Linked DNA regions of Homo sapiens. The protein of the gene in region 1 purifies or fractionates together with the protein of each later gene. This does not show direct contact. Each region holds a gene or a part of one and is shown in the gene's direction. Other genes may lie near its edges.

Evidence for each region.
Region 2: the proteins of SFXN2 (region 1) and SPSB4 purify together in Homo sapiens (affinity purification with mass spectrometry; 2 studies listed by BioGRID and IntAct, with this or other methods). This does not show direct contact.

Annotation. Positions count from the first base shown.
Region 1 is NC_000010.11:102,724,442-102,731,711, forward strand, and holds part of SFXN2 (sideroflexin-2), read left to right. Parts: intron 1-494; exon of another isoform or gene 495-526; coding exon of another isoform or gene 527-555; intron 556-644; exon of another isoform or gene 645-866; intron 867-2,170; coding exon of another isoform or gene 2,171-2,195; coding exon 2,196-2,356; intron 2,357-2,545; coding exon 2,546-2,716; intron 2,717-3,233; exon of another isoform or gene 3,234-3,350; intron 3,351-3,989; coding exon 3,990-4,088; intron 4,089-4,877; coding exon 4,878-4,953; intron 4,954-5,281; coding exon 5,282-5,367; intron 5,368-7,270. UniProt on the Homo sapiens protein: Mitochondrial amino-acid transporter that mediates transport of serine into mitochondria. Involved in mitochondrial iron homeostasis by regulating heme biosynthesis.
Region 2 is NC_000003.12:141,054,139-141,061,408, forward strand, and holds part of SPSB4 (SPRY domain-containing SOCS box protein 4), read left to right. Parts: intron 1-7,270. UniProt on the Homo sapiens protein: Substrate recognition component of a SCF-like ECS (Elongin BC-CUL2/5-SOCS-box protein) E3 ubiquitin-protein ligase complex which mediates the ubiquitination and subsequent proteasomal degradation of target proteins.

The DNA of each region.
Region 1 (7,270 bases):
GCCTGTAATCCCAGCACTTTGGGAGGCCGAGGTGGGCGGATCACGAGGTCAGGAGATCGAGACCATCCTGGCTAACATGGTGAAACCCCATCTCTACTAAAAATACAAAAAATAGCTGGGCATGGTGGTGCACGCCTGTAGTCTCAGCTACTTGGGAGGCTGAGGCAGGAGAACCACTTGAACACGGGAGGCAGAGGTTGAAGTGAGCCGAGATCGTGCCATTGTACTCCAGCCTGGTGGCAGAGCAAGACTCCGTCTCAAAAAAAAAAAGATTTTCCATCACTGCTTATGTTATTTGTCTGTTCTTGTCTGTTGTCCACTTTTCCCTTCAGAGTCCTTAGAATATTAACCATCGTTGTAATTAATTAATTAATTAATTTTAACCATAGTTATTTAAAATTCCTGGTCTGATAATTCTAAAATCTCATATCTAAATCTGATTCTGATACTTGGCCTGTTTCTTCAAACTGCGTTTTTTTTTTTTTTCTTTTTAGTATGCCTTGTAATTTTTCACTGAAAGCTGGACATGATGTACCCTGTGAGAGGAACTGAGGGGTGAGGTTTTGTTTATCTAGGCTATGTTTACTGTTTGCTGTAGCTATAGGTATAAAAGGCTAAATTTTCTTCTGGTGTCCTTGTTCTTATCTCCCTTGCTGTCTATGGGTCTCTAGAGACTTCTTAAATAGGGCCTAAGACTTGTTACTCTTTTTGTTATAATCCTTGTAATGATACAGGAGCCCTGCTGGTGCAGTGGTGAGGTGAGGGAGTGGAGGATCTACAGTCCTGTGATGAGGTCTCAGTCTTCTGGGGAGCCTGTGCCCCTGAACCTTCACAAGAGCTTCTCAGCCTCCCCTTGTCCTCTTTAGGTGAGGCAGGAAGGCAAGAGGTGGCTGGAGTTCTCTTTCCCCAAGTCACTTAAGTTCTGGTACAACCCAAGATGGTTAGGCTCTGGTAAAATAGTTTCCCTCAAGGGTAGACCTTGTTGAGAAGAATAAAAGGGCTGGGCATGATAGTGCATGCCTGTAGTCCCAGCTACTTGGGAGGCTGAGGTTGGAGGATTGCTTGAGCCCAGGAGTTCGAGGTTGCAGTGAGCTATAATCATGCCTGTCAATTACCATTCACTCCAGCCTGGATAAAATAATGAGACTCTGTCTCTAAATAATAAAACAGGCCAGATGCGGCAGCTCACACCTGTAATCCCAGCACTTTGGGAGGCCGAGGCAGAAGGATTGCTTGAACCTAGGAGTTTGAAACCAGCCTGGGCAACATAGCGAGGTGCCATCTCTACAAAAAAATACAAAAATTAGCCAGGGTGGTGGTATGTGCCTGTAGTCCCAGTTACTCAGGAGGCTGACCTGGGAGGTAATAGTTGCATTGAACCATGATCACACCACTGCATCCCAGCCTGGGTGAGAGAATGAGACCCTGTCTCAAAAAAAAAGTAAAATTAAATAAAAAAAAGAAGTATAAAGGGCTTTGGGTGTTTTTTTGTTTGTTTGTTTTGTTTTGTTTTTCCCCCCAAGATGGAGTCTTGCTCTGTCACCCAGGCTCAGGCTGGAGTGCAGTGGTGTGATCTCAGCTCACTGCAACCTCTGCCTCCTGGGTTCAAGCAATTTTTCTGCCTCAGCCTCCTGAGTAGCTGGGATTACAGGTGCCTGGCACTGCGCCCGGCTCATTTTTGTATTTTTAGTAGAGATGGGGTTTCACCATGTTGGCCAGGCTGGTCTCAAACTCCTGACCTCATGATCCCCCTGCCTCGGCCTCCCAAAGTACTGGGATTACAGGCATGAGCCACTGCACCCAGCTGGCTGTTTTTCAAAATGGCTACTTTTCCCATCTCCCCTGCCAGAAACACCTGGGGGTATTATACTATTTAATGGGTGGGCTTTTGTTCCCAGAGCTCTCCAAGCACAGGCACTGTATTGTCCCCTTTTCCAGTCCCTCCTGCTGTATGGTCAAGCACAGAGCTGGCCACCAGCAGGCCCTCAGGAAACACATGTTGGTGCCCAGTTGCTCAATCTGATGACCATTCACTTGGGCCCTCCCAAGCTGAGTCAGACGATGCCCAGTAGCTGGTGAGAGCAGGCAGTCTGCAACAGTGGGACGTGCTCAGGTCCTCTGTGGTGGGCTTTGATTTAGGGGACAGTCATCTTCTTCCTTTGTCCCTTAGGTCCACAGTTTTATGTGTGAGCAAGATGGAGGCTGACCTGTCTGGCTTTAACATCGATGCCCCCCGTTGGGACCAGCGCACCTTCCTGGGGAGAGTGAAGCACTTCCTAAACATCACGGACCCCCGCACTGTCTTTGTATCTGAGCGGGAGCTGGACTGGGCCAAGGTGATGGTGGAGAAGAGCAGGTGAGGGGTCGGGGAAGGGGCTGGAAGTAGTAGGGTAACATTGATGGGGTCCTCTTGGGAGGAGGTGGAAACCGAAGGTGAAGGAATAGGCAGAAATCTCAGGGCTGGGGGCTGGAAGAAGTGAGAGTGGGGAGACTGGGAGACATTGATCAGGCAGGATGGTGACTGCCTGCTGTCCTTGGGTGGCAGGATGGGGGTTGTGCCCCCAGGCACCCAAGTGGAGCAGCTGCTGTATGCCAAGAAGCTGTATGACTCGGCCTTCCACCCCGACACTGGGGAGAAGATGAATGTCATCGGGCGCATGTCTTTCCAGCTTCCTGGCGGCATGATCATCACGGGCTTCATGCTCCAGTTCTACAGGTGGGACCTGGGGGCAGGGCCGTGGGAGGTACAGCTGCCTGGATCTGCTGGTCAGGGAGCCATACTATGATAATAATAATAGTTCTCTTGATTGGTCACTTACCAGATACCAGGCACTATGCTACATTCTTTGCTCGTATTGCTTCATTTAACCCTCGCAACAACCCTACACTATAGGTACTATTATTTCCATTTTATAGATGAAGAACTAGAGTTCTAGAGAAGCTGAAGAACTTGTCCAGGTTTAAACAGGCAGGAAATATGGGTGCCTGGATTTTAACTGAGGCAGTCCTGTGTAGAACCCTCAACAAATAAGCTACCCCAATTCCCTCTTTAAAAAGTACTTATTCCACAATGATTTTAATTATGTAACACCCAAACAAAACAATAGGAAGTCCCTTTCTTGGCTTGGTTGGGGAGAGAATAGACTGCCTCTGTAGCTGCTGGACATGTGACTCTTCTTCCTACCTCTTCCTTCCTCCCCTGCGTCCCCCACCCCACGCATTGATTGGTTCAGCTATTGAGCTGGGCTTTGGGCCGGGTGTTGGGAATGTGAAGGCTTCAGTAACCTCCCGTCAAGGAGCTCCCAGTTTTGTTGAGGAGACCAAGAAGTAAACAGTTACAGTACAGCTTGGTAAGTGGTAGGTTGGAGGAAGAACATGGGGTTGTGGGAGCAGGAGCATGGAGTGACTTACTCTGTCTCAGGAGGGGCAGGGAAAGGGTCGGGAAGGTTCCATGGAGGAAGTGATCCCTCTCAACAGGGCAGGGTTGGCCATGTATGGAAGGAGGAGGGGGAGATATTTGAGGCAGAGGGGCCAGCCTGCGCAGAAGCCCAGGTGCATAAAACAGTATGGGAACAAGCTGGGCACGGTGGCTCATGTCTGTAATCCCAGCACTTTGGGAAGCCAAGGCGGGTGGATTACTTGAGGTCAAGAGTTCAAGACCAGCCTGACCAATATGGTGAAACCCCGTCTCTACTAAAAATACAAAAATTAGCCAGGCGTGGTGGTGTGTGCCTGTAGTCCCAGCCACTTGGGAGGCTGAGACAGGAGAATTGCTTGAACCTGGGAGGCGGAGGTTGCAGTGAGCTGAGATCGTACCACTGCACTCCAGCCTGGGTGACAGAGTGAGACTCCGTCTCAAAAAAATAAAAATAAAAAACTAGTATGGGAACAGTGTGGGGACCTGCAGATCATGTGCTTTGACTGGCATACCCTCAGGACTCCCTGCCATCTGACTTCTCTCTGCCTCTCCTGGCCTTCCTCACTGGTAGGACGATGCCGGCGGTGATCTTCTGGCAGTGGGTGAACCAGTCCTTCAATGCCTTAGTCAACTACACCAACAGGAATGCGGCTTCCCCCACATCAGTCAGGTAGGAGACCTGAACCCCAGGCTGTCCTCGTGTCTCCCCACGAACAGCTTTTCTAAAGGGTTCTGGGCTGTCAGTCCTTCCTGGGTAGCACCTGCACTGAGCAGGTGACCAAGTCACCCTTTCCCAGGGTTTGGAAATATTTTCTCAAGCTGAGTAGGGGTGGATCTTCTTCCTAGACCAATTCCAAATGTGTTTATTCATTCATTCTCTAAATATTTCTTCTTGAGTGTGTCTTATGTGCTGGGGATGTGCATGGTTCTAGATGCTGGGATACATTGTTAAGACATGTGGTTGGGCCAGGCACGGTGGTTCTCACCTGTAATCCTAGCGCTTTGGGAGGCTGAGGCAGGCAGATTGCCTAAGATCAGTCTCAAAACAAACAAAAAAAACCACCCAGAAAACCAGGGTTGCAAGGCAGAGAACAGCAGAGCGGTGTCTGTGTAGTTAGGCCACTTAGAGCAGTCCCATCTGTGAAGACGACATTTCAACTGTCCTGAAGGATGAGGGATGAATGACCCAAGAGCCCAGGGAACACCTCCCCGCATAGGGAGCAGCCGTGTGCAGAGGCTCCGAGGCAGGGAGGAACTTGGCATGTTCACAGTACTGAAAGAAGACCAAGGGGGCTGGAGCACTGTGAGTGAGGGGGAGAGGGTCACAAGATAAGGCTGGGGACAGATCCTGTGCGGTTTTCACGCACGAAGCCTCGCCAGCCGACTTTCTCCCTGAAGCCCGTGGTTTGGCCCTCAGCCGGCAGGGGCCCCACTCCCAAGCATCTCTCTCCTCCCCCAGGCAGATGGCCCTTTCCTACTTCACAGCCACAACCACTGCTGTGGCCACGGCTGTGGGCATGAACATGTTGACAAAGGTATGGTCTGGGGCCGCTGCAGCATGGTGGCCACGCGGGGGCAGCAGAGTCCTAGGGAAAACGTCCTTCCCCCAGGGACAGTTCCCCAGGCTGGGTGAGTTGGGAATGGCCAGAGCCCGGCTGGCCAAGTGATGAGAAATACACCAGGGCCGTCCCCAGGTTGGTTCTTCTTGGGCCTTTGAGGGAGTTTGGGGTTCCCAGACTGGGTGTCTGGATGTGTGGCGGTAGCAAGGCCTAGTTTTCTTTTTTGTATTCTAGTCGTTCAGCCCCCTCCCCTCCCATCTTCCAGCGCTTCTGAACAACTCCTACTGTTCTCTTCCCCCAACAGAAAGCGCCGCCCTTGGTGGGCCGCTGGGTGCCCTTTGCCGCTGTGGCTGCGGCTAACTGTGTCAATATCCCCATGATGCGACAGCAGTGAGTAAAGGCCCCTTTTTCTCCCTACAAACCACAAGATTAGCAGAAAAGGGGCAAGAAACCAAAGCAGTGGGTGGCTTCTGGGGACTGCGGTGGGCATGGGGAGGGCTGCTGGGCTGAGCCTCTGAAGGGCCCTGGGATTGGCAGCTCCCATGGTGATGGCCCCGGGAGTGGTGGGTGACTTTGGGTTAGGCCGTGTGTTGAGTCCCGTGGGAGTCCTCTCCTGGGTGATGTGGGATGGGAAAGACAGGGTGGACCTGTGGAGTTTTACACTGGATCATGTCCTTTTGGACCTGTGTTAAAATTGTGAACTCCTCCTACTTCCCAAGCCCTGGGGATGGCATACAGAATGAAATGTAGCAGGCTGAGGTGTCTAAAGATAGCATAGAACCCAGAAGCTTTGAAAGAAGCCAGAGGAGTAGACAGAAGTTTTCCAGGCACCCAACTCTAAGCTTTTCAGGAGAAAAGGTAAAGGAGAAACTCATTGTGTCTCACAGTTCTTATTTCTTGACTAGAGAAATCTCTGTTATGAGGTTTTAATGATGTAATATATGTAAAGCACTCAAAATAGCACCTGGAACATAAGAGATGCTACATAAGTGTTCACTGTTATTTCTACCATTGTCATCATCATCAATATCTACAAGCCACATTTTCTTGGGACTACCAACAAATGGAAAATGTTCACACTAGTCTTTGTAGAGGAAGCACTACCAGAATAGTTGTGCACACATGCTGCTCCATTCATCTTTCCTTCCCCATCCAGTGGCCCTTTCCTAACAGGAGAATGAGTCCCTGCCACCTACCGGGGCTTGAGTTGAGTGCTGTCAAGAACTGGCCTGAGAAGAACAGCTGGGGTGGGCTGGGTGCGGTGGCTCACGCCTGTAATCCCAGCACTTTGGGATGCTGAGGCAGGAGGATCACCTGAGGCCAGGAGTTTGAGACCAGCCTGGCCAACATGGCAAAACCCCATCTCTACTAAAAATACAAAAATTAGGGCCAGGCGTGGTAGCTCACGCCTGTAATCCCAGCACTTTGGGAGGCTGAGGTGGGCGGATCACGAGGTCAGGAGATCGAGACCATCCTGGCTAACACGGTGAAACCCCGTCTCTACTAAAAAATACAAAAAATTAGCCAGGTATGGTGGCGGGTGCCTGTAGTCCCGGCAACTTGGGAGGCTGAGGCAGGAGAATGTTGTGAACCCGGGAGGCGGAGCTTGTAGTGAGCCAAGATCGCACCACTGCACTCCAGCCTGGGTGACAGAGTGAGACTCCATCACAAAAAAAAAACCAAAAAACAAAAACAAAAATTAGCCGGGCATGGTGGCGCATGCCTGTAATTCTAGCTACTGGGGAGGTTGAGGCAGGAGAATCGCTTGAACCCAGGAGATGGAGGTTGCAGTGAGCCAAGATCATGCCACTACACTCCAGCCTGGGTGACAGAGTGCGATTGTCTCAAAAAAAAAAAAAAAAAAAAAAGGAATAGCTAGAGTAGCTACTGTTTGTGGAGTGATCACACTGTGTGTCAGGTGCTGGACCAAGTATTTCATAGCCATTATCTCATTTAATCCTTACCAGGTCCTGTAAAGTGGGTGCCAGGATGATCCCCATTTTGCAGATAAGCAAAACTGAGGCTTTGGGAGGGTTAAAGACTGTGCTCAAGGTCACACACATCCCCTGCAGTTTCAGGACTCAACCCAGACAGTCCGGGCCCAGGGCCACCGCTCTCAGCCACTGCCCTAGATCACTCCTAAGATACTGCTTATTGGAGTGCAGAAGGAAGGTCAAAGGCCCAGGCTACAGGAGGTGGCTTCCTGGAGCTTAAGTGGCCTGGCCTTGGTCCCCTGGCATGTCATGTGGCTGGCAGGCTTCCATCACCCCTTTCCCAAGTCCATTAACTCCTG
Region 2 (7,270 bases), on another chromosome or scaffold:
TTGGGGAAAGACCTAGTACAACTCACCATACAGGAGTTACTTAATTTCCCCTGAGCTGCCCGACCTGTTGTCACACATCCATGCTCTAGAAAGGTTTTTTCTCTGTTGATACAGGAGTGAAGGGTCTTGGGCATGAAAATCAGGGGAGTGGCAGGCCGTAGATGGAGGTCACCAGAAGTCTCTGCCTATATATGTACTATATAAGTACATAGTATGTACTCTTGATTTATGTGAACATGACCATCTGTGGTAAGAAAAGATCAACTATAAAAAATTTTTAAACCAGCAACACGTTTTTAATAAAACATGGTTCCTACATAAGCCAACTAATTTATTTGCTGCTGATCAGTTCAAGAAATAGGGATTTGTTTTGAGGCTATAGGAAAAACAGTTGTGGGTGGTGTGCCCTTTGGGAAAGAGGTGGTATACCTCAAACCAGTTATCATGAACTTTGTGTGGAACTTTAGAAGAACTTTCCTAAGCAGTGTTGATTGCATGTGATTTTTGCTTCACACATTGAGTTCAGAACTTACTCCATTTAAAATGTATACGTGTGGTGGTTCATGCCCGTAATCCCAGCACTTTGGGAGGCCGAGGCGGGGGGATCGCAAGGTCAGGAGATCGAGACTATCCTGGCTAACACAGTGAAACCCCGTCTCTACTAAAAATACAAAAAATTAGCCCGGCGTGGCGGCTTGCGCCTGTAGTCCCAGCTGCTGGGGAGGCTGAGGCAGGAGAATGGCATGAACCTGGGACGCAGAGCTTGCAGTGAGCCGAGATGGCACCACTGCACTCCAGCCTGGGCAACAGAGCGAGACTCCGTCTCAAAAAAAAAAAAAAAATGCAAACCATGCAGGAGGTATAGAGTGGCTAGTCCTTCTTCAGTCTGACAAGCACGTCTTAATGCAGCCAGAGGTAACAGGTACAAGGCTGTGTACGAGTATTGGAGATAAAGGCTGGTTGGGCACTGGCTCCATTAAGAAATGCAGATGTGGTGCAAGAGATAGCAGCAGGAATCAACAGCTAAGATGAAGACAAAGTGGGTTGGAGGGCAGAGGGTGCAGTGGGACGTAGGCAAGAGGACATAATGGGGCGGAGGGAAGAGGATGTAGTGGGCTGAGGGGCTGCCACGGAGGGGTGCCCAGTTCTGCTTCTGCTAGAAGGGGCAGGGGAGTGAGAGAATGTCAGCCAGGTCAGAGAAGATGGGAAGAGTCCCAGGATGTGCTGACGAGGAGAGTCTGGCATGACTGGTCTGAGGTGGGCCGTGATGACAGACAGTGTGGAAGAAATAAGAGCAGCCTGGAGGGCCCCTGGGTGCCAAGCAAAGAGGTGCAGCTTCTCTCTGGAGAAGCTGCCTGGAGGGTTGAATGAAGAGATTGGTGGGTGTCTTGGTCCAACTTACCTGTTGGCAGCATGGAGAGTGGGTTGGCGGGCAAACAGTGGAGTCAGGGAAGCCTGCTAAGAGACCAGTGGAGTAATCCAGGCAAGTTCTGAACTAGGGGAAAGCTGACGGGGTTGAGTGGTGGGGACCAAGAGACGGGATCCATGGCAGGAACAGTGACATGCAGAGGAACCTGGCATGTGAGAGAGGGAAGAGGCCAGGCTCAGCCTAGGACCTGCAGATTCCGAGGTGCACATGGACCACAGATGTCCCGCAGGGCTGAGAGTGTGGGTGTGCCCATGGTAGGAGGCTTATGATGGAAAGAGGTCAGCTGGCCTTACAAGGTCATTTGAAACAACACCCAGGCAGGGCTGACCAGGGGCTTCTAGTAGGTAGGTCTTGTGCTGAGGAGAGAAGGCAGCACTGGAGACCCGGCTTGAGAGTGTCTGCACGGGGCTGGAGATGCAGGTCATAAGAGAAGATGCATGGAGAGAGAGAGTGAAAAGCGGAAACTGAAGTTGAAGCAATGGACTTGGGGGTGCCCCATTGATGGGGTAGGCAGGAAGACATTGGAGCCAGGAGGAGGCAGGAAAGCTGCTGTGGTAAGCTCTACACTTCAATGTGCTGGTATGTGTGGTGGGAGACGCTGGAGCAGTGCCAAAGTCATCCATCTGACCTTTAATGTTGTGAAATGTCATGTATGGTGAACTGGAGCTCTGCTTTCTCCAGAAGTGAGTGGGCCTTGGCCCGGTTTACTGGCCACAGAGACATTCTACCTGTTATCTACCTTCAGGAGACATCTACCTGTTATCTGCATTCTATGAAATGTGCAAGTTGTACAGATTCCTGGGGCTGGAGCAGCTCCCTCCCCGATCCTGCTCCCTTTCTCCTCTCTTCCTCTCATCCTCTCTCCTTTCCTCCTTAGTATCTCAAAAATGCCCCCAGAGATACTGTAGGCTTAACAGAGGGATCTTCAGAAATCCCAGCAGGTCCCTATTATGACCTGGCTCAAGCCAGAGGCATGAATAGTTCTGCTTTTCTTTTAGGCATTCTGTTTCCAGACAACCAGTTATACCAAGTGGAGAAGGTTCATCTTGGGAGGTAAATGAGGGATTGGACGCAAACCTTATCATGTTTTCATCATCGTTTTCCCCAGAGGGCTTCATTAAATGGTACCCTTCCCATCTTCTCCCTTCATGCTTTGACCCAGCCCAGACATGCTGGGCCTCAGGGAATCCAGCTGCCCTGCAAACAACCTCCACATGTGCCTGGGGCAGGCCTCTGGGCTCAGGGGCAGCTGTGGTGACCGGGCTGGCCCGGACTGCACGTGGCCTTGCTGTCTCAGTGGTATGTCTCTTTCAAATGACCTTGCAGAGCTTGCTGCCCTGGTCACAGCCTAGCAAACCTCCTTCATCCCATTTGCTGCTCTCCTTGCTGGCTGACAGCCCAGCTTGCACCTTGGGGGCCCCTGGCTCAGTCACGCGTGGGAGGATTCCCATGGAAACCCCAGGAGGAGGAGAGGCTCAGGGAAGCCTCATTGATTCTCGCTCCAGGAAAACAGGCGTGAGATGATTCCACCTGGAACTGGACAGATGGCTCTCTTTGTGAGCTCTTGGGGAAGAAAGGGCTTGCCCAGCCAGTTGTAGCCTGAGCTCCATGTGTGTATAGCAGGGAAAAGCTAATGAATGCCTATGAACAAAACCTTGGGGGTTCTTTAGTTCATTCATTGTTGGTGGGTTCATTCTGAATGAGCATCTTTAATAAAACAGCCTCCCTACTTAATATTTGCACAAGAAAAATCTTAAAAACATTCCAGTTAAACTAAGGTCAGGCACCTATCATTGGTACCTTTGCACAGAGTCAAAAATTGAAAAATAAAGACATGAAATAAATAGTCTGAGCTCACAGTGCTCTGCATTCCCAGTTCATTCTTAAGTGTTGGTTCTTTCTAAGGCAGTGTATTGCTTTTCTTCATTTGTTCGTGCTCGTGCATTCCATAGACGTTCACCCACCACTTTCTCTAAGCCAGGTCCATGGGGACTCTGATGAGGGACACCCGGCCCCTGCTCCCAAGTTGCCCCAGTCCGATGGGAGGGAGGCAGCCAAAGAGACATCATGTCCCCTTGTGATAAGAGCTGTGGTGGGCACAAGTACAAGGGCTCTGAGAGCACAGGGGGCTGGGGAGCTCCCCAGAGGCACTAATATCTAATATCCTGAAAGCCTCAGAGAACCTGTCGAGGATTTTGAGCAGGAGCGTGATTAGATCAACTGTGTACTTTTACAAGTGCAGTAGTATATATTTGAAAGTAATATGCAGTCTATAAAGGAATTCCAGTGGTATCTAACTGGATTTCTTTTTACAGTCTTTGTCATTATTCAGATCTCTCGTGGAGTCTGACCCCTTTGGTGTAGGCTGTCTCCCTAAGGGAAAGTGGTTGAGTCTTATGCTTTTCAGCAGCCTGAGATCCCCAGGGCAGGCATCATTACTGCTGGCTAGATGAAAGAAGGAGACTTGCCCCCACCTCTGGCTCCAGCAAGTCCAAAGCCAGAGGCCACACAGAGAGAAGGGCATTTCACGCAGTCACTACCAATCCCCACAGCAGTCATGTCTTCTTGCAGACCCCGTGCCTATTGAGCTCAGCTAGACAGGCCTCTGTGGCTGTGATTTTGGGTCCCAGGCCTCTGAAGACTGTGCATCATATTTTTCAAACTAATGAGGTTCCTTAAACAGTGTGGCATTGCCACTTCATGTCTCCTCATTTCCCTGTCGGGTAGGAACATCTGCTAGGGTCCTGGGAAAGGCAATTAGCAAATTAGAGTTTTTGTTTTCTTGCTCAGCCATGATTGAAGCCCCAGAGCAGATCCTTCTGGATAATGTCATTAAGCATCCCCATCCAAGCATGACGTAGGAAATTAAGTTTGGTTTTGGGGAAAAGTGACGGAGGCATCCTTTGGCGTTCTTCAGGATGCTGGCTGCTTACTGGGTTGAGAGATGATGGTATTCCTGTCAGGAAGATGGATCCTGTTGTATGTCCCATGTGCCTGGCCCAGTGCTGCATGCTGTAGTGGAGATGAGGAGAGGAGAAATGTGCTAAGTGCCCACTCCCTCTGGCTGGAGAGAGAAGGCAGGGATGAGCCCGACTTGGCCACTGCTGTGTCCCTTGCTCTCAGCTGCACAGTGCCTGGCACTGTGTTCACTAAGCATTTTTTGAACGAATAAATGAGGGTTGGAAGCAGGGAAGGATGCAAAGCAGTAGCTAATAAAGGAGTAGACTGGATACAGCCAAGAGTCAGCTGCTCAGGAGTGAGAGTCCAACTATGATAGTGGCATTACTGGGCTTCATGTCCCCATATCCTGACTTTAGCCCTGGCCCTTTCTCTGCTTCATCCTCTGAAAAACAGCAGAGCATGAGCCCTCCCTGAAGCCCAGCACAACCTCTCCACAGTCCATATGTGTGTTCTGCCCCATGTTCAAAGTACCAGGCTTGTGTCTTGCATGGAGGGAGTAGTGCAGTGGCTGGGGGCACAGAAGTGCTGGTGAAAGTTTCCTGCCATCAGAGGAATGCCCTCAAGGTAGAAAAAAGCAGATCAGTAAGGCCTGAAAGATGTCCCCCTGGCTGGCTCAAGGGTGGACAGAGGTACAGGGCAGGCCCCAGGAGGCCTACTGGATCAGGGCAGGCTTCCTAGAGGAGGTGGAGCTCACCCTCATGGACTAATTATCTCTCAAAGGCTCCACCTCCAAATACTATCACACTGGGGCTTTGTGTTAGGCCATTTTTGCATTGCTATAAAGAAATACCTAAGACTGAGTAATTTATAATGAAAAGAAGTTTAGTTGGCTCACGGTTCTGCAGGCTTTACAGGAAGCACGGTGCTGGCATCTGCTTGGCTTCTAGAGAGGCCTCAGGAAGCTTACAGTCATGGCAGAAGGTGAAGGAGGAGAAGGCATGTCACATGGTGAAAACAAGAGCAAGAGGCGGGGGTGGGGAGGTGTCACACACTTTTAAATGAGCAGATATCTCTCCAGAACTCAGTCACTATCCCTAAGACAGCACCAAGCCATGACAGACTCACCCCCATGACCCAGACAGCTCCCACCAGGCCTCACCTCCAGCACTGAGGATTACAACTCAACATGAGATTTGAGCAGGGACAAATATCCAACCTATATTAGGCTTCAACATGTGAATTTGGGGAGGACACAATCAGTTCATAGCCAGGCACATTCAAGTGGTGAAATGGCAATGTTGGAACACATCCACAATTTAAAAGAGCACTCACCACTTACTGGAAGCCCTGTGATGTGCCAGACTTTACAGGTGTCTGCTCTGATACTTGCAAAAGCAGGTGAGGTTAGCACATAGTTAGCAGCACTTCCAACCAGTCTCAGAGAGATTAAGTTCTGGCCTAGGGTCCAACAGACAGGTGGGGATTCACATCTAGGTCTCCTGTCCTTCATTAGATTGCCCAGCTGCTAGTTTCCCTTAACGGCTTATCATTCATGGACATGAGCACTCTGCTGTGCGCCCTGTACTGGGGGAGCAGCAAAGGGGCTGTCTATTTACTTGCCCACCTTGTCACACCACAGTGTGAGCACTCTTCAGGATCTCTGCCTGCCTCTAGTAGGGACAGAGACTTTGAGACTATGATTGCAAAGGAGAGCACTGGGCCCTCAATGACCCAGTATGGGCCAAGCCAAGTACTAGTAAGAGGTCTTCCCTGGGGCTGCTGTTTGGCTGTTGCTTTCAAACATGTTTAAGTGTCTTTTCAGCAACAGCAACTCCACAGTTGGCATGGTTGTGTGCAAGGATAAAGCAGTTTCCCTTAGAAATTTTCTGTGTGGGCCACACAGAGCTGGTTACAGTCATTGCTGTGGAGAGGGCATTATTCTAAACAACATGGAGGAAGAAGTAAGAGCACAGGCTTGTCATATGGTAACTCTGGGGTTGATCCCAGTCCTGCCACTTCCTGGCTGTGTGACCCCAGGTTATGCAAGTTATGCAACCTCTCTGAGCCCGGGCTGCTATTGCAAAGAGTGCTGCGTATGTATGCAGTATGTATGCATGTGCTGTGTACATAGGTAGTTTTGTGCATTTGAGAACATATCTGAATAAATGCTGGAAGTAGAATTGCTAGGTCAAAGGGTCTGTATATTTGCAATTCTGAAAGATGGTGTTAATTTGCCATTTGCCGAGGCTAAACCAGTTTATATCCACTTTAGCAATGTATGAGTCTGTCTTCTGTTCCACACATTCTCCAAGCATGCGTTATCCATTTTTTTGACCTTTAATAAGCTGATAGACAAAAATGGCATTTCAATGGAGTTCTAACTCATTTCTTTTTCAGTATACATTGAGTATCTTTTCAAAGGAACCATTTGTTTTTGTGTAAACTGTTGATATCTTTTCATATTTTGTACTTGTATTCATTTGTAGGAGTTTGACATATATTTGTTGGTAATTTGTGTTGCAAATTTTTTCTTATGTTAAAACAAGTCTAACTTCTTTTACAAGTGCTTTCAGCTACACCGTTTTGTTATTTCCCATTTTCATTTCTTGTTTTACATATTTCTGTCTTCTCCCCCATTAAATGATTATATGGTTTATGTTTTATGTGTTTTTAAAAATTTAGTTACTTATGCATTTAAAGTATATTTAGTGATATGTGAAAATGCAAATTACATAATTTTTAGGTGAAATAATCTAAATAAAGGCCCATTATACCAATTTTTAAAAAGAAAATTCATTATAATTTATAGACCAAAAAAAAAGAGAGAATAAAGCAAAATTCCTCCAAAAGCTGACAATGTTTATATCTGGTTAATGAGATAGGAGAAAGAGGTGAATTCTAGTTTTTGTCCTTTTTTTGTATTCTCTAAAATTTAGACAT